Homo sapiens: one gene and its partners. Changing the gene in region 1 together with any one later gene gives a genetic interaction. Each region holds a gene or a part of one and is shown in the gene's direction. Other genes may lie near its edges.

Region 1 (3,500 bases):
GACCATCCTGGCTAACTCAGTGAAACCCCATCTCTACTAAAAAATAGAAAAAATTAGCCGGGCATGGTGGCGGGCGCCTGTAGTCCCAGCTACTCGGGAGGCTGAGGCAGGAGAATGGCGTGAACCCGGGAGGCAGAGCTTGCAGTGAGCAGAGATCGTGCCACTGCACTCCAGCCTAGGCAACAGAGCGAGACTCCCATCTTAAAAAGAAAAAAAAAAATCCAGCAAGCATAGTAGACACAGGGCCATTCTGATAACTAGTGGTGGAGACTTGAATAAGGCTTGAAATTGGCTAGGCGGCAGCCAGATCTCAGCTGCCACAGTTGAGAACTATTCATTCAGCAAACATCTGAGCATCCACTATGGTGATGAATATGACTTTTAATATAGGTGCAGCAGCTTCAAGTAGCAAGCCTCATGCTGGGCCCTTAGTATGTGTTGAGGGAATGGATGACTGAAAGGGGCCTGTTCTTTCTGTGATGTGCTGCATCCCAGTGCCTTTTCATCATATTTCCCTCTGACTCTGTGGGGAGCCCAGGGTAAGATTAGTATTGCTTTGAATTTCAAAGAATCTTATAGTTCTTCAATGGAGTTCAAGAATTGGGACAGGTGGGGGAATGTAAAGGCAAAAAGCTGAGACAGTCCTCCCAAAGTGCACTTGCCGTCCAGAAAGGATGGAAGAAAATGAAGCCCCAGGGAGTTGTTGATTCTCAACATCTGTTAACTCCCTTGCTGGGTGCAGTCATTTGCTGATTAGCTTCCCTTTCCCCCACCCTGGCACCCAGAGTAATAAAACAATTTGTACTCGTTCCCTCAGAAATTGATGCAGCCCTTATGGGATGTTCTTGTTGTCTAAGCCACCTTGTAAATGGCTGTGCACATCATCTTCAGCAGTAGGTGGGGAGTTGGAATCATTATGAGATACTCCATCCTCAGGTTTCTGCTGCAGCTGCAGTGACAGAATGCATTCCTCATCTCTGTGCCTTCTTTCTCCTCTTCTCCCAAGTCCTTCAGCCTCAAGTCCAAAGCCTGGTGACATCCTCCCAGGTACAGCCGGTCACCATTCAGCAGCAGGTGCAGACAGTACAGGCCCAGCGGGTGCTGACACAAACGGCCAATGGCACGCTGCAGACCCTTGCCCCGGCTACGGTGCAGACAGTTGCTGCGCCACAGGTGCAGCAGGTCCCGGTAAGTGGCTGGAAAGGATTCAGGGAGGCACTGGTTGGGGCTGTTAACTGGTCCTTGGTTGAAGATGTGGTCTACATACTAAGAAGGACCAACCAGAGTGTACACAAAGCAGCTTGTAGGGCGCCAGGATGCACCTGTGAGCAGCGTATAGTGACCTGGCTGAGTCCATATCTGTAGATAGACACTGGCACTCAGGAAAGGCTGGTGCAGTCACTTACGTACACATGTAATGGGCATAAAACTGGAAAGAAATGTGCTAAATTGGTATTTCCCAGATAATTTTCTTTTTCATAGTTTTGTGTTGTGTTTTTTTGTTGTTGTTGTTGTTTTGAGACGGAGTCTCATTCTGTTGCCCAAGCTGGAGTGGAGTGGTGTGGTCTCAGCTCACTATAACCTCCGCCTCCCGGGTTCAAGCAGTTCTGCTGCTTCAGCCTCCCGAGTAGCTGGGACTACAGGCATGTGCCACCACACCCGGCTAATTTTTATATTTTTAGTAGAGACGGGATGTTGGCCAGGCTGGCTTGAACTTCTGACCTTGTGATCCACCCGCCTCGGCCTCCCAAAGTGCTGGGATTACAGACGTGAGCCACTGCCCTTGGCTTTCATAGTTTTCTGTTCTCCATATTTTCTGCTGTGGATCCTGAACATATATTGGGTTGGGGGGAGGGGGGGCATGTATTATTAATCTTTTTTTTAATTTTTTTTTTTTGGAGACAGTTTTGCTCTTGTTGCCCAGGTTGGAGTGCAGTGGCGTGATCTTGGCTCCCTGCAACCCCCGCCTACCAGGTTCAAGCGATTCTCCTGCCTCAGCCTCCCAAGTAGCTGGGATTACAAGCACCTGCCACTGCACCTGGCTAGTTTTTTGTATTTTTAGTAGAGATGGGGTTTCTCCAGGTTGGCCAGGCTGGTTTTGAACTCCTGGCCTCAAACAGTGCATCGATCTCGGCCTCCCAAAGTGCTGAGACTACAGGTGGGAGCCACTGTGCCCAGCTGGGGGACGTGTATTATTTTTATAATCACAAAAAACGTCTTTATGTTATATATCATCGTGGACTATATCCTCTTTTTTCTTTTTTTTTTTTTGAGAGTCTTGCTCTGTCGCCCAGGCTGGAGTGCAGTGGCACGATCTCGGCTCACTGTGCAACCTCAGCCTCCTGGGTTCAAGCAATTCTCCTGCCTCGGCCTCCCGAGTAGCTGGGATTCCAGGCACGCGCCATCACGCCCAGCTAATTTTTGTATTTTTAGTAGAGACAGGGTTTCACCATGTTGGTTAGGCTGGTCTCAAACTCCTGACCTCATGATCCACCTGCCTTGGTCTCCCAAAGTGCTGGGATTACAAGCATGAGCCACCACATCTGGCCTATATTTTCTTACTAACAATTTATCTTAAAAAAATCAGGTTTATTATTTTTGCTTCTCAGCCATGTGTCTGGCTTTCCTGAGTCTTTTCTCTCCTCTCTGCCATCCACCCTACCCATCTCTGCTCTGCTCCTGCTGGGCCACTGGCACCACCCTCTTGAAAGTCTTTCAACCTAAAAACCCATGACCTGGCTGAGCACCATGGCTCACGCCTGTAATCTCAGCACTTTGGGAGGCTGAGGCAGGTGGATTTCTTGAACCCAAAAGTTCAGGACCAGCCTGGGCAACATGGTGAAACCCTGTCTCTACAAAAAAATACAAACAATTAGCCAGGCATGGTGGCACACACCTGTAGTCCCAGCTACTCAGGAGGCTGAGGCAGCAGGATCACTTGAGCCCGGGAGGTCAAGGCTGCAGTGAGCTGAGATTGCACCACTGCACTCCAGCCTGGGCAACAGAGAGCAACCCTGTCTCAGCAAAAAAAAAAAAAAAAAAAAAAAGCCAGGACCCTCATTAGCTAGCCCCTCTTTCTCCACCTGAACCCGGTATTCAGGCTGTACAAAATAGCCGGCTTTTGAAATGGCCTCTATGAAATTTCCTGTTCATTTTTTTATTCTCAATTTCATAAAAATTATATCATTTCTCATTCTTTCTTGGAAGGTCTATGCAGTAAGAAAGGAATGCATAACAGAAGGATAATGCTATCATCCTTTTACTTTTCTTCCTTCTTCATCCAGGTCCTGGTCCAGCCTCAGATCATCAAGACAGATTCCCTTGTTTTGACCACACTGAAGACAGATGGCAGCCCTGTTATGGCTGCGGTCCAGAACCCGGCCCTCACCGCCCTCACCACCCCTATCCAGACGGCTGCCCTTCAAGTACCAGTAAGAGCTGCCTTCTCCCCCACCCTCCTCCCTCCCCCTTTATTCCTGGAGGTGTTAGTCTTCAGAGAT
Region 2 (3,500 bases), on another chromosome or scaffold:
TAGTTGGATGTGGTGGCACACACCTGTAATCCCAGCTACTTGGGAGGCTGAGGCACGAGAATCACTTGAACCTGGGAGACAGAGGTTGCAGTGAGCCAAGACTGAGCCACTGCACTCCAGCCTGGCTGATAGAGTGAGACTCTGTCTCATAAAAAAGAAAAACAATTATTTAAAACCTGACAGGGAGGATACCATGATCATGAAGGTAGTTTTCCCAGGGCGAGGTTTATCCATTGCACTCTGGATGTGCTGATGCCCTGCGATTTCGCCAAATGTGGGAAACTGAACTGCGTGACTTATGGTAGTGGAGGACTGCATTCACACTTTCCCCTGGCAATTTTTTTTTAATTAAAAAAAAATTGTTATTTTAAAACAATGGACTAGTTTTTAAAATGTGGATATTTATAGTGTTTAATGATATGAGACATTAACTAGATCAGTGATTTTTCTCTAGAAATGATTTACATATAAAATACAATAGTCTAAGTTAATAGTAATGGCAAAAACCACAATTACTTTTGTGCCAGCCTAATAGCACAATATCTAGTAAATGTTATGTGCTTAATAAATGAATAATAGAATCAATTAGAATATGATAGTACCCTGCAGAGCATCTCTGATAATCTCCAAAGAATGTCTTGTGTTAACTTGAAAAGTAAACCTCTTGTGAAAAATTCTTCAGCCTCTCTGTAATTATTGGATTCTGCTGAGTTTCTTTTTTTTTTTTTTGGAGACAGCATGTCACTCTGTCACTCAGGCTGGAGTGCAGTGGCGCGATCTTGGCTCACTGCAACCTCTACCTCCTGGGTTCGCTTGAATTCCCCTGCCTCAGCCTCCTGAGTACCTGGGATTAGAGGTGCGCGCCACCACCCAGCTAATTTTTGTATTTTTAGTAGAGACGGGGTTTCACTATGTTGGTAATGCTGGTCTCGAACTCCTGACCTCGTGATCTGCCCACCTTGGCCTCCCTTAAGTCCTGGGATTACAGGCGTGAGCCACCGTGCCCGGCCAAGATTCTGTTGAGCTTCTTACTCTCCTTGCTGTACTGGTTCTATTTAGGTTCAAACTTAATGACTCTTGCTCCAGGAGGGGCAACTGTCCTTGTTTTCTCTAGTGTAGTCCTTCTCGCTGCTTAGCTCTTCCTCACTGGAACTTGGCAGCAGTCAGTCTGCATTCCACTGGTTTTTGTGTGTGTGTGTGTGTCTTTTTTTTTCCCCCCCTAAGAAAACGGGCTCTGCAACTTTTTGGGAACCTGTACACACAAAACTTACCTGTCAGTAATCCCTGGCTCCCCCACCACAATTCAGTACTTAAACTTCACCAGTCTTCCAGCCATATGCAGCTAACTTTAGAGACACTGTGCAGGAATAGCCCAGACACAGGAAGTTGGTAGAGGCCATAAGTTGGATGAAAGAAAGGAAATGGGGATAAGGGAGTAGGAAGAACTAAAGAGAGTCATTGGCAGTAGACAGGAAATCAGAGAATAGAGGAGAGAAAGGATTGAGATCACAAGGGAGGAAAAACAGATGGGCAGGATATGAAGGATGTTATAACATGGAAGAACTATAGAAAAGCAAATGGGTGCATGGAAGAGAAATGACATCTCATTTTGAAATGTATCTTGCCATTCATTTTATGTTGATTTACAATTTACAGGGCCAGGAAAATTCTCTGTGTTGGACTGCTTTAGACAAAAATGAAGGCGAAATGATAACTTCTAAGGGTAAGTATGAAGTATGTGTTTTGATATGTTACTACTTTGACAGGATAATTGTTATACCTTTTATTTATTATTACTAATTTTGGGTGGAACAGATTTCTGTGATAGCATATAAGCATCAACTTGGATATGCATTTATCAAATCATTAGGTGGAAAAACAGGCTATTCATAATTGTCAGTCACTATCTTTCTGACTTTTTTCCCCAGATAATTTAGAAGATGAGACTGAAGATGATGACCTATTTGAAACTGAGTTTAGACAATATAAAAGAACATATTACATGACGAAGATGGGGGTTGACGTAGTATCTGAGTACGTTTTTGCCAATGCTTTTATTTTAAAATAGAAAAAATTAGATTTTGCAGTTATTCAGAAAATATGATTTTGATGAAGTAGTGGGAGAAAAAGGATTTTTTGGTTTCATGAATTATTGTGTATGTTTCAACTAGTCTGGTTTTGGAGAAGATGGTATTAATTCTGACTTGTATTATATTCCTGTGATAAAAATTGCTGAAGAGAAAATGATCCTTATGTATAAGGATTTTTGTTACAAAGTTGTTTATAATAGTAAAAAAATTAGAAATAATCTAAATGTCCAATAAGAAGGTTCATCATAATTGGCCACTGCTTCTTCATTACAGTCACCATCTCTGTCACCTCTTCCATCTCCGGAATCTGCAGAACTGCTAAACTGGTACTTGCAGAAAGTTCATAACAATTTGGAAGGATGCTTATAGTACATTATTAAGTACAAATTGTAAAGGCAAGACATGAAATCATACATACAGTATGCTCTCATTAACCTTAAAAAAACCTAGATATAGATAAAAGACTGAAACACTAAAAATGTAAAAGTGATGGCTATAAGATGATAAAAATGCTGTTCTTCATTGTCCAGATTTTCACTCCTGAGGAAATAGTTCTTTTATAATAAAAAAGCAATATTTTTCATATTAAAAAACTACCTCCCAGAAATATGTAGTTATGTAATTTCTAAGTGAATATTTTTGCCTTTAGCCCAGGGCTCTGTTTTGTTTTGTTTTGATGATTTGAAGACTTATTTTACCCAAACTTAGAAGATGGCATTTGGTTTTTGACAAAGAAAGGATTAGAAGGAATATTGTTCACATACAGCACTTCTGAAAGCATTCTAGCTTCTGTGACCAAATTTTAAGATCTTCCTGATTTGCTGCTTTGCTTCTCTCAGATATCATCCCATGTAAAGAAGATTCCCATCCCTTTCTCCCGTCTCACCCCCACTATTTAAGAGAGTGGTAGTGTCACTATGGAAAGCTTCATTGGGTAAATCTTCAACCTTTGGACCAAGGGAGTGGTACATTAACTGAGTAAATATGAATAACAGACTTATCTATTTTGATAGTTGGTTTAGGAAAACTGTCATGTGACAGGATGTAATTTTTAAAAATATTTTGGAGTTTTTAGGATTATAATTTTTAGCCATAAATAGCTAATTCATTGATTAAATAAATCATCTGAGGTAAAATGTTGTATCAGCAGATACCGTGCTCTAAAGACACGGGCCTGTCTTCAGAAAATATGTTATAATGAAAATATTCTATTTTCAGTGACTTTCTGGCTGATCAAGCTGCATGTTATGTTCAGGCAATACAGTGGATTTTGCACTATTACTATCATGGAGTTCAGTCCTGGAGCTGGTGAGAGAATAAAAACAAAAATAAAGTTTTGTCTTTTTATAATGATTCATTCTACTAGAGTCTTATTTAGGAAGCACTTCCTTTTATTTCTACTTATGGTAA
Region 3 (3,500 bases), on another chromosome or scaffold:
AAACACTGGCCTCTTTTGTTTTTTGAGACAGAGTCTTGCTCTTGTCGCCCAGGCTGGAGTGCAATGGTGCGTTGTAGGCTCACTGCAACCTCCGCCTCCCAGGTTCAAGCGATTCTCCTGCCTCAGCCTCCCAAGTAGCTGAGACTCCAAGTGCCCGCCACCAAACCTGGCTAATTTTTTTGTATTTTTAGTAGCGACGGGGTTTCACCATGTTGTCCAGGCTGGTCTCGAACTCCTGACCTCAGGTGATCCATCTGCCTTGGCCTTCCAAAATGCTGGGATTACAGGCGTGAGCCACCACGCCTGGCCAAACATTGGTCTCTTTATTTGCCTGATACTAAGATCTCATTGTAGATTCTTGCCCCTTATAAAAAATTATTTTAGGACTCAGGTATATTGCTAAATATCAAAAATTGTTTACAAAAGGACATTATTACATAAAGTCCTATTTTCCATAGTTAGCGCATGGTATCCATTGTTGAACTAAAGAATGTGTATTACCCCCTCCCTTCCTTCCCCCAAGAGAAAACATACCAGTGGGATTTAATTACACTTTCTGTTTAATGTGCAGGCAGTGATGAACAACTTGGAAAATTAGTCTACAATGCTTTGGAAACAGCCACTGGTGGCTTTGTCTTGTTGTATGAGTGGGTCCTTCAGTGGCAGAAAAAAATGGGTCCATTCCTTACCAGTCAAGAAAAAGAGAAGATTGATAAGTGCAAAAAGCAGGTAAGCATCCAAGGTGGCTGACTGAGCAAAAGGCCTAATCTCAGGCTTTAGGAGATGACAGAACAAAATAGCCCTGCATTTGTTTGCCCTGCAGAGATGGTCCAGAGCAGTATGAGAACTGTTTGACCAGGGAGGACAGTGAAGGACCAGTACCTCTTTGCCCCTTGCCTCTGGTTTCAGAACTTTCACAACATGATCAAAGCACTTCCAGCTGCCTTCTTAACCTCCTTTCTTAGCCCTTAGTATGGCATTAACAGTCATCTTTCCAACTGGGACTAAATACTAGTTCATAATTGGGTTTTTTTGCAATTCTTCTTTTCCCTACTCTTGAAATATTGCTTCAGGGCTGGGTGTAGTGACTCATACCTGTAATCCCAGCACTTTGGGAGGCCAAGGTAGGAGGACTACTTGAGCCCAGGAGGTTGAGACCAGTCTGGGCAACATGGTGAAACCCTGTCTCTACAAAAAATTTAAAAATCTGTGGGCATGGTGGCACATACTTGTGGTCCCAGCTGCTTGGGAGGCTGAGGTGGGATAATTGCTTGAGCCCGGGAGGCTGAGGTGGGATAATTGCTTGAGCCCAGGAGGTTGAGGCTGCAGTGAGCTGTGTTCATGCCACTGAACTGCAACCTGGGTGATAGAGCAAGACCCTGTCTCCAAAAAAAAAAAAAGAAAAGAAAAATACTGCTTCAAAACTGAATTTTGGGGGACCGGAGGATTTTTAAGTTAATTTATAAATTATGATTTATAACCAAGCATAAGGAGAACATTCAGTATTGCATATTGCAGTGTTACATAATAACAAGGTTTACAAAAACGTAGATAAAGCATGGTGTTCAGAAATGTGTGTGTATTTAAGTATAGAAAGAAAACTGAAAGTAAATGTGCCAAAATCTTGAGTTATCACTGGGTGGTGACCACATAGATAACATGTGGGTATTTTCTATCAAACTAATTTTTTAAATGTTGACAATGATCTTTATTAAATCAGAAAAGATTTTTTTTTTCTGTCTTCAACCTTAACTCCTCTTTGCCATGTGAGGTTCTGAGGATTAGGATGTGGCCATTATTCTGCTGCTCAAATCATATACTATATTTTTAAAAACCCAAATACAAAGCTAATCAGAAAAGGTTATTTTTAAATTAAAGTTTGTTTTTTCTAGTGGCTATACCTCAAAAGAATTTTATTTTAAAAACTGTTCACTAATTTTGTAGTATATGCATAGTAGGTTTTGAGATTAGAGAAGTTGAGAATTAGCTAAATTTTTTCCATCTTTATGAACTATTAGATTGACCATATGGTTTGGGGAGGATTCAGTTTAGGGCATATTTGTTCTCCTCTCATTTGAAAGTATATTTTCTATCAAATACTTCACTTTTGGTTTTGGTTTTGTTTTTTTATGCCCCCATCTTGTATGATCAAATACTTCACTTTTGAAATGAAACCCAAGTTAATGTTGACTGGCCCAATATTCTTTTTTTTTTTTTTTAACTTATCAGATTCAAGGAACAGAAACAGAATTCAACTCACTGGTAAAATTGAGCCATCCAAATGTAGTACGCTACCTTGCAATGAATCTCAAAGAGCAAGACGACTCCATCGTGGTGGACATTTTAGTGGAGCACATTAGTGGGGTCTCTCTTGCTGCACACCTGAGCCACTCAGGCCCCATCCCTGTGCATCAGCTTCGCAGGTACACAGCTCAGCTCCTGTCAGGCCTTGATTATCTGCACAGCAATTCTGTGGTGCATAAGGTCCTGAGTGCATCTAATGTCTTGGTGGATGCAGAAGGCACCGTCAAGATTACGGACTATAGCATTTCTAAGCGCCTCGCAGACATTTGCAAGGAGGATGTGTTTGAGCAAACCCGAGTTCGTTTTAGTGACAATGCTCTGCCTTATAAAACGGGGAAGAAAGGAGATGTTTGGCGTCTTGGCCTTCTGCTGCTGTCCCTCAGCCAAGGACAGGAATGTGGAGAGTACCCTGTGACCATCCCTAGTGACTTACCAGCTGACTTTCAAGATTTTCTAAAGAAGTGAGTATCACTGAGATTCTCTCTAATAGCACTTTACTCCTGTACTTTTGATTGTGCTGGAGTGTGCCAGACATCTAAGTGATGTGGAAGCTGAGAAGTGAGGAACAGGACTTCATTCTTTGCTCTCCCAATCCTGTCCTAGTCTCATATGTTCTGTTTTCTCATGTAGGTTGGTGATTCTCTTAACTACCACATTCTCTGAAATTCACTTGGAATTCACACTTGATTTTCAAACTCCTTTTGGGGGACTGATGGGATACTCTTGGAAGTCAATAGAGATGGTTATGGTGAGAAATGCCCTAGGTATTCCAAATACTGACCTTTGCTCTGGTTCCTAAAGGGTCAAAGACGAGGCTCCTTATTCAAAAACAGCTTTGGGAGTGAGATTCTGCCCCTTGTGCTTCTTAACCATTCTTCATTGGCTGTCTCATTCATTTAAGTTGTAGAATGCAAATAACTTCCTTAGTCTAGCCAGAGGAGTTTCAATACCTGTAAATCACAGGTGCATGTTTAATTACAAAGCCAAGTTTTATCCAATTTGGGAGAACCCTTCTTGAGATGTTTCCTCAGGCCTAAGATGTTTGTCCAGGTCCTTCACTTAAGTGTTTTCTAATTTCGTCCTGCCTCTGTTTTCAGTCCAAGCCAGAGCTAAGTTCTGTCAGTTTCTGTTAAATGGGAGATAAGATCCCTTCAGTCTGGATTTTTCCAGATGCTCCTCTGGTCCAGCTATCCTGC
Region 4 (2,755 bases), on another chromosome or scaffold:
TCACCTCGCATGAGACCGCCCGCAGGTACCAGCACCAGCATGGTGGTGTGCATCCTTCCAGGCTTGTGCATGCATAGATCCCTCACATTTTCAAAAGCGATGTTGTGCCATACTTTTCTTGCTAATTTGCAGCCTATTGGAGCTATTTTTGCTTAATGATACATACATATATGTATTATATATATATATATATATATATATATATATATATATATATATATATATATAATTATTATTGTTATTATTTTTGTTCTTCCCCCCCCTCCAGATGGAGTCTCACTCTTGCCCAGGCTGCAGTGCAATGGTGTGATCTCGGCTCACTGCAACCTCTGCCTACCTGGTTCAAGCGATTCTCCTGCCTCAGCCTCCCAAGTAGCTGGGATTACAGGCGCCCGCCACCGCACCCAGCTAATTTTTTCTTTTTGTTTTTTTAAGTAGAGATAGGGTTTCACTATGTTGGCTAGGCTGATCTCGAACTCTTGACCTCAGGTGATCTGCCCACCTCGGCCTCCCAAAGTGCTGGGATTACAGATGTGAGCCATGGTGCCCGGCTACTCTTAATGATGTATTGACATCTTTCCCCAACAGCACAGCTAAATTTCCAAGTCGCATAAGCCCTGGGGCTTTCCTGGTGGCCCCACTGGGGCTGCTCCGTCCGGAACCTAGAAGAGGCTTCATGGCCAGGGCTATGGATTCTTTGCTCTGGATGAAGCTGAGACACAGTTTTCATCTGTTTTGTATCTTAGGGTTTTGAGTAAGATTTTCTATATAAAAAGGTTCTCCTGAATAATGAGATCAGCCAACCGCCCATGCAACTGAAGACACTGTCGTCATTGGGAAAGTTTCATCCTATTCCATGTAGTGCTTGCACCGTAGGTTCTTTAACCAGCTCCCTCACTGTGGCATCAAGGTTGCTTTTGGCTTTTGGCTGGGATGCGTGTGCTGTGGTGAATATCCTTGCCATTTATGTTTCCTGCTGTAAAGCCAGGGTAGCTGCATGCACTGGCATTTGAACAGGGTGAGACAGTCCACCCAGAGCTCTCCCAAGTCTCTCCCAAATACCTTAGAGTAGGGACACTGGTCCCCATTTATTGGTGAGAAAACAGGCTCAGGGTTTCATGACTTGTTGAAAGTGCAGAAATGGAATGCTGGCCCCCTGGATCTGCACATCTGCCTCGCTGCTGGTTTGCGGTAGGTTTGCCATGAACTCTTGGTGTCTACCTGCATCCCCTTGGGTGGCCCCTGCCCATACTTAGGCGGGGATATGCCTCTTCGGGCTTTTCAACAGCATTTTTTTTTTTTTTTTTTTTTTTTGTTTATAGAGCCTCACTCTGTTGCCCAGGCTGGAGTGCAATGGCGCCATCTCGGCTCACTGTAATCTTTGCCTCCTGTGTTTAAGTGATTTCCGGCTAATTTTTGTATGTTTAGTAGAGATGAGGTTTTGCCATGTTGGCCAGGCTGGTCTCGAACTCCAGGCCTCAGGTGATCCGCCCGCCTCTGCCTCCCAGCATCCTCGAGGTGCTTCCTGGTGCTTCCATCGTGGTCAGCCTGAAAGCCTTTTTATTGTTTTTCAGCTCAACATTTATTGACTAAATAAGTGAATTTGTGTTGGAAATGTCAGTTCCTTTTCTCATTGCTGAGCTTATCACCGTGGAGTCCTCCTAGTAACTGATTTCAGTGGTTTCTGTTCCCCTAAGTGCTCTTGAGATGAAGCAGGAGAGTGGCCCAGCGTGCCTTGTAGGAGGAAGTGACAGAAGGAGAGAGCGTGAGCGTGATCTGCCTGGGCTTGTCCTCCCGGAAGTCACAAGCATGCAGCCAAAGCTGTTTGCCTTCGGTGGAAATTTCCGAAGGTTGTAACATACTGGATATTATAGGAGTGAAAGCTCAGGAGCATAAAGTGAGGCGTGAGGCCGGGCGCAGTGGCTCACACCTGTAATCCCAGTACTTTGGGAGGCCAAGGGGAGGATCACCTGAGGTCAGGAGTTCGAGACCAGCCTGGGCAATATGGTGAAACCCCCGTCTCTACAAAAAATTAGCCAGGTGTGGTGGCATGTTCCTGTGGTCCTAGCTCCTTGGGAAGCTGAGGTGGCAGGGGTCGCTCGAACCTGGGGAAGTCAAGGCTGCAGTGAGCTGAGGCCGTGCAACGGAGTGAGGCCTTGTCTCACACACACACACACAAAGACACACAAAGATAACTTGCTGATATTTGAGTAACACCAGTTTGCTAAAACTAAAAAGATGCCTTTGTGTCACCTTACGTAAAACAAGACTTGTTGCCTATAACTGATCTCAGCATCTGCCTCCCCCTCTTCTCACTCTGTACCTACATTCAAAGCCCCCTCTTCACAAGCCCAACGCCCCCATCTCCCCAACAGTCCCCTCCACTGAGGAGGGCCGTAGTTCTGTTGAGAAATTGTCAGAGTTGATAAGCTAAGGGTACAGTCACAGATTTTCTTGTTCAGTCTGCTTAACAGAAAGGCTGTTCCAACGGTAGGGGGAGAGAAAGGGACCGTGTTTCATTCCTAGTGTAAACATTGGAAGTCCAGGTATTTTGAAGATTACCTCATTTTTCAAAGGCGAAACCCCTCAGTCTTCACCCCAGGAAAATGGGACGCCTCACGCCTCATTTTAGCTGGGTCTCCTGAGTAGCTGAGACTACAGCTAATTTTTATATTTTTTTGTAGAGACAGGATCTTGCTATGTTGCCCAGGCTGGACTAGAACTCCTGGGCTCAAGTAATCCTCTTGCTTCAGCC
Region 5 (3,500 bases), on another chromosome or scaffold:
ACAGACCTCCTTTTCTCTCACCCCCATCCCCAGAGAGGTCCTAGGGCTGGTGGACATGGCCGCCCTGGAGAATGGGGAGCTGGGGCCCCTTCTCTCCCCTGGCACCCTGCGGGGTTTGGAGGATGAATGCGTCACAGATGTTAAGGTACCTGGAACTTTGCATTTTGGAAGCAGGAGGTGCTGTGGAGGGAGGGGGTCACAGTGGGCTTGGGAAGCCTGTCCCCTCCACCTTTCACTCTTTCCAACTCCCTTTTCCCTTTACGAACTTCTGAGTTCTATCCATGTGCCATAGACACAAAGGCCGCTGTACAGAGACACTTGGTAAAGGTTCAGTATATCTGGACACTTCAAACCTTAGAGTACAAGAAAGTTAGTCACAGAACTACAGCTCACAGGCCCAAAGACTCACAGAAGTATAGCATCAAAGATTTTTTTTTTTTTTTTTTTTTTGAGGCAGGGTCTCGCTCTGTTGCCAGGCTGGAGCATTGACCTCCTGGACTCAAGCGATCCTCCTGCCTCAGCCTCTCCAGTAGCTGGCACCATAGGCACGTGCCATCAGGCCTGGCTGACAAAGATCTTCACATATAAGCAGGGCTGGTAATAAACATGGTTAATTACTGAACCTGCACAGACACCGCTGAGCAGAATGGCCCAGCCATGCACGCCGTCCCCGGCTACAGTGATGTTTGCTGTCTCAATTCCAGTCCTACTTCCAGCCACAGAAATCAGTCAATGCTACTTAAGAGCCTAGAACCATAGAAAAGAGATCTGGATCCTTAAACTCATCAAATTGAGGATTATACTTTTTTATTTTTTTAATTACAGATGTCTCCCTCTTTTGCCCAGGCTGGAGTGCAGTGGCATGATTACAGCTCACTACAGCCTCGAACTCCTGGGTTCAAGGGATCTTCCCACCTCAGCCTCCTGAGTAGCTGGGATTACAGGCACACACCACCATGCCTGGATAATTTAAAAAAAAAAAATTTGCAGAGACAGGGTCTTGCCATTTTGCCCAGGCTAGTCTCAAAATCCTGGCCTCAAGTGATCCTCCAGCCTCAGCCTTCCAAAGCTCTAGGAGTATAAGCATGAGTCACCCCAGCCGAGACAACACATTTGATCAGAGAATCAGAGATGTGAGAACCTTTGCAGCCCAGCCTTTGGAGTTCTTGAAACACAGAATCTGAGAATCTTAAACTAACTGTTTGGCAGAACCTGAGAGCAGAGTCTTGGGACCAAAAGACAATAAAACATAGACCCTTGGCCGGGCGCGGTGGCTCACACCTGTAATCCCAGCACTTTGGGAGGCTGAGGTGGGAGGATTTCTTGAGGCCAGGAGTTCAAGACCAGCCTGGACAACATAGCAAGACTGTCTCTGTTTTAAAACTTTTGTGGCCGGGCACAGTGGCTCACGCCTGTAATCCCAGCACTTTGGGAGGCCGAGGCGGGTGGATCACGAGGTCAGGAGATTGAGACCATCCTGGCTAACACAGTGAAACCCCGTCTCTAGTAAAAATACAAAAAATTAGCTGGGCATGGTGGCGGGTGCCTATAGTCCCAGCTACTCTGGAGGCTGAGGCAGGAGAATGGCGTGAACCCGGGAGACGGAGCTTGCAGTGAGCCGAGATCGCACCACTGCACTCCAGCCTGGGCGACAGAGCGAGACTCCATCTCAAAAACAAAACAAAACAAAACAAAAATGTTTTGTAAAACATTTTAAAAGTTAGCTGGGTGTGGTGGCACGTGCCTGTAGTCTCAGCTACTCAAGAATCTGAGGCGGGAGGATTGAGTCCAGGAGTGTGAGGCTGCAGTGAGCCATGATGGTACCACTGCACACCAGCCTGGGGGACAGAGCAAGACGTGGCCTCTAAAGAAAAACAATATTTAATATAAATAATACTTCATACATATCATAATATGTAATAATAGGATTTATATTTAATATAAATATTAAGTATACATTATTTGTGTATACATATTAACATATAAATGTGTATATTATAAATAATATACAATAATATATTATATTATAGCTTTATTTATAATGTACACATATATATATTTTGAGACGGAGTTTCACTCTTGTTGCCTAGGCTGGAGTGCAGTGGCACAAACTCGGCTCACCGCAACCTCCTCCTCCCGGGTTCAAGTGATTGTCCTGCCTCAGCCTCCCAAGTAGCTGGGATTACAGGCATGCGCCACCATGCCCGGCTAATTTTGTATTTTTAGTAGAAAAGGGGTTTCTACATGTTGTTCAGGCTGGTCTTGAACTCCCAACCTCAGGTGATCTGCCCATCTTGGCCTCCCAAAGTGCTGGGATTACAGGCATAAGCCACCGCACCTGGTCACATGTATCTATATTATTTATAATATATTATTTATAATATGTATTATTGATTTATATTTAATATTTATATGTTAATATAGATTACATATTTCATGTGCTATAGTATATAATACATACTAATTATTAATATATAAATAACGTATTATGAATTATTAATATACACATTATATAGCTTATACTAATATTTAATATATAAATATATTACATATATAACATATATTTAATACATAAATATATGTATATATTTAATACATAAATATATGTATATATTTAATACATAAATATATGTATATATTTAATACATAAATATATGTATATATTTAATACATAAATATATGTATATATTTAATACATAAATATATGTATATATTTAATTATACACACACGTGCACACACACACAATTAAGCCCTTGCTTATTAGATGGAGGAAGCTTAAAACCATGGACTAATTTTATTTTATCTATTTATTTATTATTTTTTAATTTATTTTTTTGAGATGGAGTCTCACTCTGTTGCCCAGGCTGGAGTGCAGTGGCACAATCTCGGCTCACTGCAAGCTCCGTCTCCCGGGTTCACGCCATTCTCCTGCCTCAGCCTCCTGAGTAGCTGGGACTACAGGCGCCCACCACCACGCCCGGCTAATTTTTTGTATTTTTAGTGGAGACGGGGTTTCACCGTGTTAGCCAGGATGGTCTCCATCTCCTGACCTCGTGATCCACCCGCCTCGACCTCCCAAAGTGCTGGGATTACAGGCGTGAGCCACCGCGCCCAGCCTATTTTATTTTTATTTTTGAGTTGGAGTCTCACCCTGTTGCCCAGGCGGGAGTGCAATGGCATGATCTCCACTCACTGCAACCTCTGTCTCCCAGGTTGAAGCAATTCTCCTGCCTCTGCCTCCTGAGTAGCTGGGATTACAGACACGCACCACCACGCCCAGCTAATTTTTGTATTTTTAGTAGAGACGGGGTTTCTCCATGTTGGCCAGGCTGGTCTTGAACTGTTGACCTTAGGTGATCCGCCAACCTCAGCCTCCCAAAGAGATTACATGTGTGAGCCATCGCGCTTGGCCAAACCAGACTTTTAATATGAAGTTCCAAACCACAGAGTTAGGAGTGGGAAGGGCTGCAGAAGTTTTCTGGCTCAGCCTCCCTCCCCA
Region 6 (4,071 bases), on another chromosome or scaffold:
CTGCGTTAAGACTAGGCCTAAATGGAAGATGCTTGTGCTGTCCATCTCATGGGAGGTGCCTTTGCCTCGATACAGGGATATTGAGTTCTTAAAATGTTTTAATGAGTATCCATTAGGTGCTGAGATGCTGAGGTTGAAGGGATGGTCCTGACCCCAGGAAGCTTGGTCAGCAAATGAGAGTAAGGAGTTAGGGAACAATGAAATGCAAACTTCTCTTATCCTAGGGCTTTGAGCCTGTGTGTTTTTTTGTTTGTTTGTTTTTGTTTTTTAGTTTAAATTTCCATTTTTTTTTTTTTGAGATGGAGTTTTTACTCTGTCACCCAGGTTGGAGTGCAGTGGTGTGATCTCGGCTCAATGCAACCTCCACCTCCTGGGTTTAAGCGATTCTCATGCCTCAGCCTCCCAAGTAGCTGGGGTTACAGGCATGTGCCACCACGCCTGGCTGAGTTTTGTATTTTTAGTACAGACAGGGGTTTTGCCACATTGGCCAGTCTGGTCTTGAACTCCTGACCTCAAGTGATCCATCCGCCTCGGCCTCCCAAAATTGAGCCTGTTTTAAATAAAAGCTATATGACCTTTGCCTTAGAGCCTATATTCATTTTTCCCTCAGAGGAGAAGGAAGCTGATTTTTATAAGCACTTACTGTGTGCCACGAGCTTTGTGCAATCCATCTCATTCAACCCTTACCACAGCCTGTAAGGCCGATGTTACTGCTCCCGTTCACAGATGACAACCCCAGGGCTCAGCAAACAGAAGTGACTGACCTCTTGGACTGCGTTCTTGCCACTGCCCCCACTACCCCACTGTACTTTCCTGGCCTTAGAGCCCTCGGGTCCCTCATGGACAGGCCCCCACACTGCCTGGGAAACTCAGAACAGCTGGAGGGGTTTCTTCTCTGAGGATTCTGGTGTCGGGAGATGGAAGCCCAGGAACAGTGGACAGATGGATGAGACATTCTCCTTCTCACGCACTTATCCTACACACTGGTCACTCTCAAAAGCACACCCCTAGTCACACTCGGGCTCACACTCTCTTGCACACATCGATTTTTTCACGTGCACTTGCACTGCCCTCTGGACTTCTGCAGTCTCCTTCATGAAGCGGGGATGGGTGGAGCAGGGGCTGCCGGCATTGATGGAAATTGATGATATTTGAACATCTGTGTGGCAACTCACTCTCCAGCTGTCCCCGCCTCCCCCAACCCCACCCCTAAACACACATGCACTGGGGCTGACAGCTATTTCCTCTCTCAGCCTCCCTCTCCCACCTCTGTCTGCCCGCTGCCTCTTGTCTAGCTGCTGTCAGGAGCTGACTGCCTCCAGGGCTGGAATCCTGTGCTCCCTCTGTGCCCAGGTAAGGAGGAGTGGCCCAGGGGTTGGGCAGCCTAGTGCCCTCTCTAGACCCACAGAAGAAGGCAAAGTTTTACCAGGTGAGAGGGCTGTTACCAGCTAGGATGGCAGAAGATTGAGTTTACCAAAGACTGGAGGGGACTTGGTGCTCAGAGGAGGGAAGGATTAGCTTCTCTTAGGCATTAACTAGATGTCAGATACGAGGGGAAACCACTCAACTGTCTGTCAATATTCACAAGCAGTCTGGGTGGGAAGATGACACCAGCACGCTTAGAGTAACTGGCCCAAGGTCACGCAGCCAGGAAGCTGAGGAGCTGGGATTCAAACCCAGGTCTTGGACTCCCACAGCTTGCACTCTCTGTCCCTTTTTTTTTTTTTTTTTCTTAACCTGCCAAAGCCGGACCTTAGCTGCTTGGCTCCTGAGAATCCTGGGAGGCTGGGGGCTGTCTCTATAGAGTTAGAAGGACTGATCTGGTGGTGCCCAAGGGTGTGGCAGGACTGTGCTCTCTGATCATCCCCATAGGACTTGGATCAGCAGCAGCTGGTCTGCAGGGAATGTTTCAGGGCAGACAGCGGGTGGTACTTGGCTATCTGCTGGGAGTGAAGTCCCAGCCCCACTGTTGCAGCTGAGGAACGCTGGGCAAGTTGTTGTTTCTTCTTCTGAAAAATGGGGTGTCATAGGTTCATTGCAAGAGTAACTGCTCTGCACATTCTAAAGCCTAGGAAGTATGACCATTCTCAGGAAGCACAGGCTCCTCTTCCATCTACCTGCAGGTCTCTAGCTCCAAGGGGCTCCTCCGCCAGCAGAATTCTAGTTTGATATTCCAGAACCCCACTCTACAAAGGACTGTGGTCTCTGGAAGGGAGTGGGTTTTCTCATCCTGGCCAACAGTGTTTTCCCTAGAAAGATGAGTACTGAAGACCATTGCTCCCCTCTCCCGCTTTTCTTCCTCCTCCTCCATCCTCTCTTCCTTGGAGTAGGGGTAGAGGAAAGAGCACAGGCTGAGCATGAAACTTTCTCCTCCACATGTTTGTGCTGTCTGGGTGGCTCTGGGCCAGTTATTTAACCACTTGAGGCTCAGTTTTCTCATCTGTAAAATAGGATGGAGTACTAGCACCATTTTTCTAGAGCCAGAAAGACAGCACCTATGTGAAGGACCTACCATAGTACCTGGAGTGTCATTGGTGCCCAGGACACCCTGAGTCCCTGTCCCCTGCTACTTGCCTCCTACCTCCTGCATGGAGCCTCATGGAATTTCCTCAGCCCTCACTGGTCTTGACCAGCCTCACATCAGATGGTCTTTCGGGCTTTCAATGAGGATGTAAGCATGCACGTCTTATTTGTTGGATGAGTGCATGATGGAGTAAGTGAATGAACAGGGGTGGGTTTCCTGGGGCGGAGAGAGCTGCTGTGGCTGCTCCTGAGAAGGGAGAGATCTTTTGGCCCCACTGGGCCTCCAGAGCCCCATGTGGGAGTTCCTCCTCCCCAGCTCTCCTGGCTCTTATCTTATTTCCTCTCCAACCATCAGAGGAGGGGCTGGTTCCACTGTTTATGGTCGGCACATCTAACCAGCCACCACTGAGTGCGGGGAGCTGCATGGAGGATCTGTAGAGAGGCAACATCTGGGGGCGCTGTGGATGCTGTGGGAAGGGGCAGCATCTCCATCGCCCAGGCCAGCAGAATCCTCTTGCCCTAATTGTGGGGCCTCCTTCACCCGCCAGTGCTCTGGGGATGGGAAAAAGGAGTCCTGTGTGGCCTGACCTTGTTCCTTTTTCTCTGTGTGATCTTAGACCATTTGCTCCATAATCATCACAATGACACTGATAAAGTGCTTGCTCTGTGCCAGGCCATGTTCTAAATGCTTTTATGTATTAAACTCACTTAATTCTCCCAATAACTCTATGAGCTAGGTGATGTTATGACTGACATCCAAGTTTCAGAGGCAGAAAAAGGCTCGGGAAGGTTAAATGACTTGCCCAAGCACAGCAATGCTGGGATATTATTCCCCCCACCCCCACCGCCCAATATATTCGTGGGTCACATTGGCATCTCCTGGGCAGGGTCCCACTCCGGGCCTCTCTCTTGGTTCCCCGGTGGCCTCTGCACTTCCAACTTAGGCGCCTCCTTCCCTCCACTGCAGAGCCCCACGATGTCGGCCAACGCCACACTGAAGCCACTCTGCCCCATCCTGGAGCAGATGAGCCGTCTCCAGAGCCACAGCAACACCAGCATCCGCTACATCGACCACGCGGCCGTGCTGCTGCACGGGCTGGCCTCGCTGCTGGGCCTGGTGGAGAATGGAGTCATCCTCTTCGTGGTGGGCTGCCGCATGCGCCAGACCGTGGTCACCACCTGGGTGCTGCACCTGGCGCTGTCCGACCTGTTGGCCTCTGCTTCCCTGCCCTTCTTCACCTACTTCTTGGCCGTGGGCCACTCGTGGGAGCTGGGCACCACCTTCTGCAAACTGCACTCCTCCATCTTCTTTCTCAACATGTTCGCCAGCGGCTTCCTGCTCAGCGCCATCAGCCTGGACCGCTGCCTGCAGGTGGTGCGGCCGGTGTGGGCGCAGAACCACCGCACCGTGGCCGCGGCGCACAAAGTCTGCCTGGTGCTTTGGGCACTAGCGGTGCTCAACACGGTGCCCTATTTCGTGTTCCGGGACACCATCTCGCGGCTGGACGGGCGCATTATGTGCTACTACAATGTGCTGCTCCTGAACCC
Region 7 (3,500 bases), on another chromosome or scaffold:
GAAAAGCCCTAGGTGCCCTGCTGATTATATGGCCACAACAGCTCAGGAGTGTGAGGCAACCAAGCCAGGAGTTAAGGCAGGCAGGAACCACAGGTGTGGCACATTCAGCTGATTTAGGGATGAAGAACTAAATTGAAAGCTGGATTAAGAACCCTTGCAGAGAAAGACTTTTGTGAAGCTCTGCCCAAGGCAGCACTAATGACAAAGCACCAAAGGGTCACATGATGCTCTTAGTGAACATGTGTTATTGCATGTCACACCCCTGTCCTGGAACATAAGTTCTCGGTAGCTGGAGACAGAATGAAAAGTCTCTGGACAGGGAGATCTGGAAAGCTTTGTGGTGAGGAAAAATTGCCCATTCAAACTGCTGTTTGATTACTTGTTACCTTTGGCAAGTTACATCATCTCCCTTTGGACCTTAGTTTCCCATATGTAAAATGAAAGGTTTAGAAAAATGGTCCCTAAAGTTCTTTCTAGCTCTATATTTTTACTATATAAATAAGGAGTCAAAGAGCCAAGCAGTTTTTTATTCTAAGCAAGGCATTAAATATGATATTCAACAAATATTAATCAAATGCCTCCCACACATTGGCCCATTACTAGGCATGAAGTATATAACCTTGAACAAAACAAGCACATTTCTTGCCCTGGTGGAGCTTATGGTCTGGAGTTTAAATTAATACAAGAAAATATAGCAGTTATTCTACAAAATCAGGGACAGCTTCCTTAAGGAAGTATCTGTGAGCAGATCTGGAGGTTGGGTCATTTAAAGAGAGGGGGCAGGATATAGCTGGCAGAAGCCTTGTTAAAGCTGGCAGAAGCCTTGTTAAAGCCCAGAGGCAGGAGAGAGCTTGAGGATAGGAGGGAAGCCAGTTGCCTTCTGCTCTGAAGCACATGCGCAGGGGAGTATGCTGCAGGGTGAGGTGGAGAGCCAGGGAAGGGCCCGGTAGTGCAAGGCCAAGTGGCTAGTTTAAAGATTTTATCCTTTGGCCTGAGAGCAATTGAGGAGTGATTGAAAGGCTTAGGCAGATGAGTGACATGATTTATTTATTCTGAGCCAACCAGGATAATGACCTTCTCTTGGAAAATGCTCTGTTGGTTGCTTGACATGAGAAGGGGAAACCCTGGTCTCTCTAATGACAAAGAAATAGAGATCACTCACAGTTTTACTATACAGAGTGATAACTCTGCTTAGTATAATGAAAGTAATGGTTAATTTTTCTCTCTTGGAACGTATATAGTAATTAAAACTTTTATACTACCTTTTTGATTACTTAGAACGCGTTGCACATTCACAAATTCTTGCTATATTATTTCTCCTTTATTTTTGCCTCGGAAACCAGAAGGAGATAAAATAGAAATCAGTTCAACCTGTTCTTTTTGAATAGCTCTGATAAAAGATTTCATCAGGTGGAGTCATCTATAAATTCAGTTGATATTCATAACTGGTATGTTTAGTTTGATCATCTTATACTTTTGTGGCAAATAGGGATCCACACCACCCATGACTGTGTTCAAGGGGAACAAACGGCCTTACCAGAAAGACTGTGTGCTTATTATTAATCATGACACTGGTGAATATGTGCTGGAAAAACTCAGTAGCAGCATTCAGGTGAAGAAAACAAGGTATGTGAATAGCCAGATGCAGGTTTATATCATGTTTCCAAACCTCTGTTATCTATTCAGTTTTTATAAGGTTGTGAACATCTGCTTGCTCATAGTGTTCTATCAATAATCTTAACACTACCTGTGCTCAGACAAAATATGTAAATATGTGCTCAGAGTAAAATATGTCTTCCTCAAATGCAATAAAAAGAAATAATGTTTTTTAAGACCTAAAACATGGGAACCATTAGGGAAAGGGGGATATACTTTATAATTAAGCCTATTTTGTTAATCTCATGATTGCTACAGTACCACCTAAGGGATAAGATAACTTATAGACTTATAATTATGAAGGAGCAATATATACTATACTTAACTGGAGTGAAAACATTAATTTTTTTACAAGATACATTTGAGATTACTATAATACCAAAATAAAACTTTGCCTATTTTTTAATATAGTGAACTCTTTAATTCAACAGTTGCTACATGTCTAAAATGAAGCCAGTTAGAGTTTATTTGAAAATAAAAATTCATTCTATAAATAGAAATAACCTAGTGGTTCTATTTGTTACCATATAATACAGTATTTTTTTTTTTTTAAAGAGTCGAGGTCTCTTGCTGTGTCACCCAGGCTGGAGTGCAGTGGCATAATCATAGCTCACTTATAATACAGTAATTATTATAATACAGTAATTAAATTGTAAAGATTGTCACAACCTGATGTTTTTTATGCTTCGTTAAGCCATTTTTTTTTCATTCATTCATTCCACAGAAAATAAAAATAGGTACCATTTATTGAGGGGGTATCATGTCCCAGGCACTCTGCTAGATGCTTTATATGCATTGTTTTATCTAACAAGTAATTTTTAGAAAGGTGTTATTATTATTTTTTACTTCTTTTGTTAAAAATATGGAATTGTTCATGAGTTTGTGTGTCATCCTTGCACAGGGGCCATGCTAATCTTCTCTGTATCATTCCAATTTTAGTATATGTGCTGCCGAAGTGAGTACGAAAGGTGCTATTATCTAAAAAAAAAAAAAAAAAAAAAAAGGTACGGAGACTGAGGGTTAGAGAGCTTGACCTACCCCGGAGAGTGTGCTGCAGAGTCCTTGCTCCTGTCCTGCCACTCTATTTATTTGTATTCATTACCTACAGTGAACCAGGTGCTACCGATATTCCTCCAATATCTGATGGTTGTGGTATATTCCCTTACTACTCAGTGTGATATGGGAACTAACAGTATCATATTACCTAGATGATATGCAGAATCTCAACACCTATGAGATCTGAATCTGCAGAGATCACCAGGTGATTTGTGCATAAGCAAAAGTTTTAGAAGCACTAGGCTAGTCCATTTACAAAAGAAATTGTTAACTGATAGAATATTCTCAGCTTGGGATGGAATTCTGCTTGTCTGCCAGCAAGAGCTGGCATGTGATGAAATGAACAAGCAGTATATAGATAATGGAAAAAATTTTCAAGCTGGGCAATATTTTAGGAGCTACTTTATTTAGGAACTCATGCACTCATGATTATAATTACATAATGATGTTTTGGTCAGTAGTGACCTACATATATGACAGTGGTCCCTTAAGATTCTAATGGAGCATGTATGGAAACCTGATATACGGCACTTGATATTGGCATTGCAGATCAAGTAGGGGGAATGACTGATATTCAATTATGGTGGTGGGACATTTGGGTTTTCATGTGAAAAAATTATATGCTATATTGGTTTGCATAAGTACATTCTGCTGTTTGCATGATGAAATCACCTCATGATGCAGTTCTCAGGACTTACCCTCATTGTTAAGGGATGCATGAATGTATTTTCTACTAGTAAAATGGATTTTCATAGTTTCATTATATCCTACATTTGTTTGCTATACAT

The links.
Region 2: changes in SREBF2 (region 1) and XRN1 together harm fitness less than expected from each alone (positive genetic interaction), as found in Homo sapiens cells (one large-scale study listed by BioGRID).
Region 3: changes in SREBF2 (region 1) and EIF2AK4 together harm fitness more than expected from each alone (negative genetic interaction), as found in Homo sapiens cells (one large-scale study listed by BioGRID).
Region 4: changes in SREBF2 (region 1) and MRM2 together harm fitness more than expected from each alone (negative genetic interaction), as found in Homo sapiens cells (one large-scale study listed by BioGRID).
Region 5: changes in SREBF2 (region 1) and EXOC3L2 together harm fitness less than expected from each alone (positive genetic interaction), as found in Homo sapiens cells (one large-scale study listed by BioGRID).
Region 6: changes in SREBF2 (region 1) and PTGDR2 together harm fitness less than expected from each alone (positive genetic interaction), as found in Homo sapiens cells (one large-scale study listed by BioGRID).
Region 7: changes in SREBF2 (region 1) and EAF1 together harm fitness more than expected from each alone (negative genetic interaction), as found in Homo sapiens cells (one large-scale study listed by BioGRID).

The regions. Positions count from the first base shown.
Region 1 is NC_000022.11:41,867,605-41,871,104, forward strand, and holds part of SREBF2 (sterol regulatory element-binding protein 2), read left to right. Parts: intron 1-1,006; coding exon 1,007-1,188; intron 1,189-3,284; coding exon 3,285-3,431; intron 3,432-3,500.
Region 2 is NC_000003.12:142,417,038-142,420,537, reverse strand, and holds part of XRN1 (5'-3' exoribonuclease 1), read left to right. Parts: intron 1-1,656; coding exon 1,657-1,723; intron 1,724-1,928; coding exon 1,929-2,034; coding exon of another isoform or gene 2,035-2,068; exon of another isoform or gene 2,069-2,697; intron 2,698-3,308; coding exon 3,309-3,398; intron 3,399-3,500. UniProt on the Homo sapiens protein: Major 5'-3' exoribonuclease involved in mRNA decay. Required for the 5'-3'-processing of the G4 tetraplex-containing DNA and RNA substrates. The kinetic of hydrolysis is faster for G4 RNA tetraplex than for G4 DNA tetraplex and monomeric RNA tetraplex.
Region 3 is NC_000015.10:39,965,115-39,968,614, forward strand, and holds part of EIF2AK4 (eIF-2-alpha kinase GCN2), read left to right. Parts: intron 1-571; coding exon 572-729; intron 730-2,229; coding exon 2,230-2,765; intron 2,766-3,500. UniProt on the Homo sapiens protein: Metabolic-stress sensing protein kinase that phosphorylates the alpha subunit of eukaryotic translation initiation factor 2 (EIF2S1/eIF-2-alpha) in response to low amino acid availability.
Region 4 is NC_000007.14:2,236,451-2,239,205, reverse strand, and holds part of MRM2 (rRNA methyltransferase 2, mitochondrial), read left to right. Parts: intron 1-2,755. UniProt on the Homo sapiens protein: S-adenosyl-L-methionine-dependent 2'-O-ribose methyltransferase that catalyzes the formation of 2'-O-methyluridine at position 1369 (Um1369) in the 16S mitochondrial large subunit ribosomal RNA (mtLSU rRNA), a universally conserved modification in the peptidyl transferase domain of the mtLSU rRNA.
Region 5 is NC_000019.10:45,228,408-45,231,907, reverse strand, and holds part of EXOC3L2 (exocyst complex component 3-like protein 2), read left to right. Parts: intron 1-33; coding exon 34-145; intron 146-3,500.
Region 6 is NC_000011.10:60,853,151-60,857,221, reverse strand, and holds the start of PTGDR2 (prostaglandin D2 receptor 2), read left to right. Parts: upstream 1-1,271; 5' UTR 1,272-1,353; intron 1,354-3,490; 5' UTR 3,491-3,499; coding exon 3,500-4,071.
Region 7 is NC_000003.12:15,430,598-15,434,097, forward strand, and holds part of EAF1 (ELL-associated factor 1), read left to right. Parts: intron 1-1,489; coding exon 1,490-1,626; intron 1,627-3,500. UniProt on the Homo sapiens protein: Acts as a transcriptional transactivator of ELL and ELL2 elongation activities.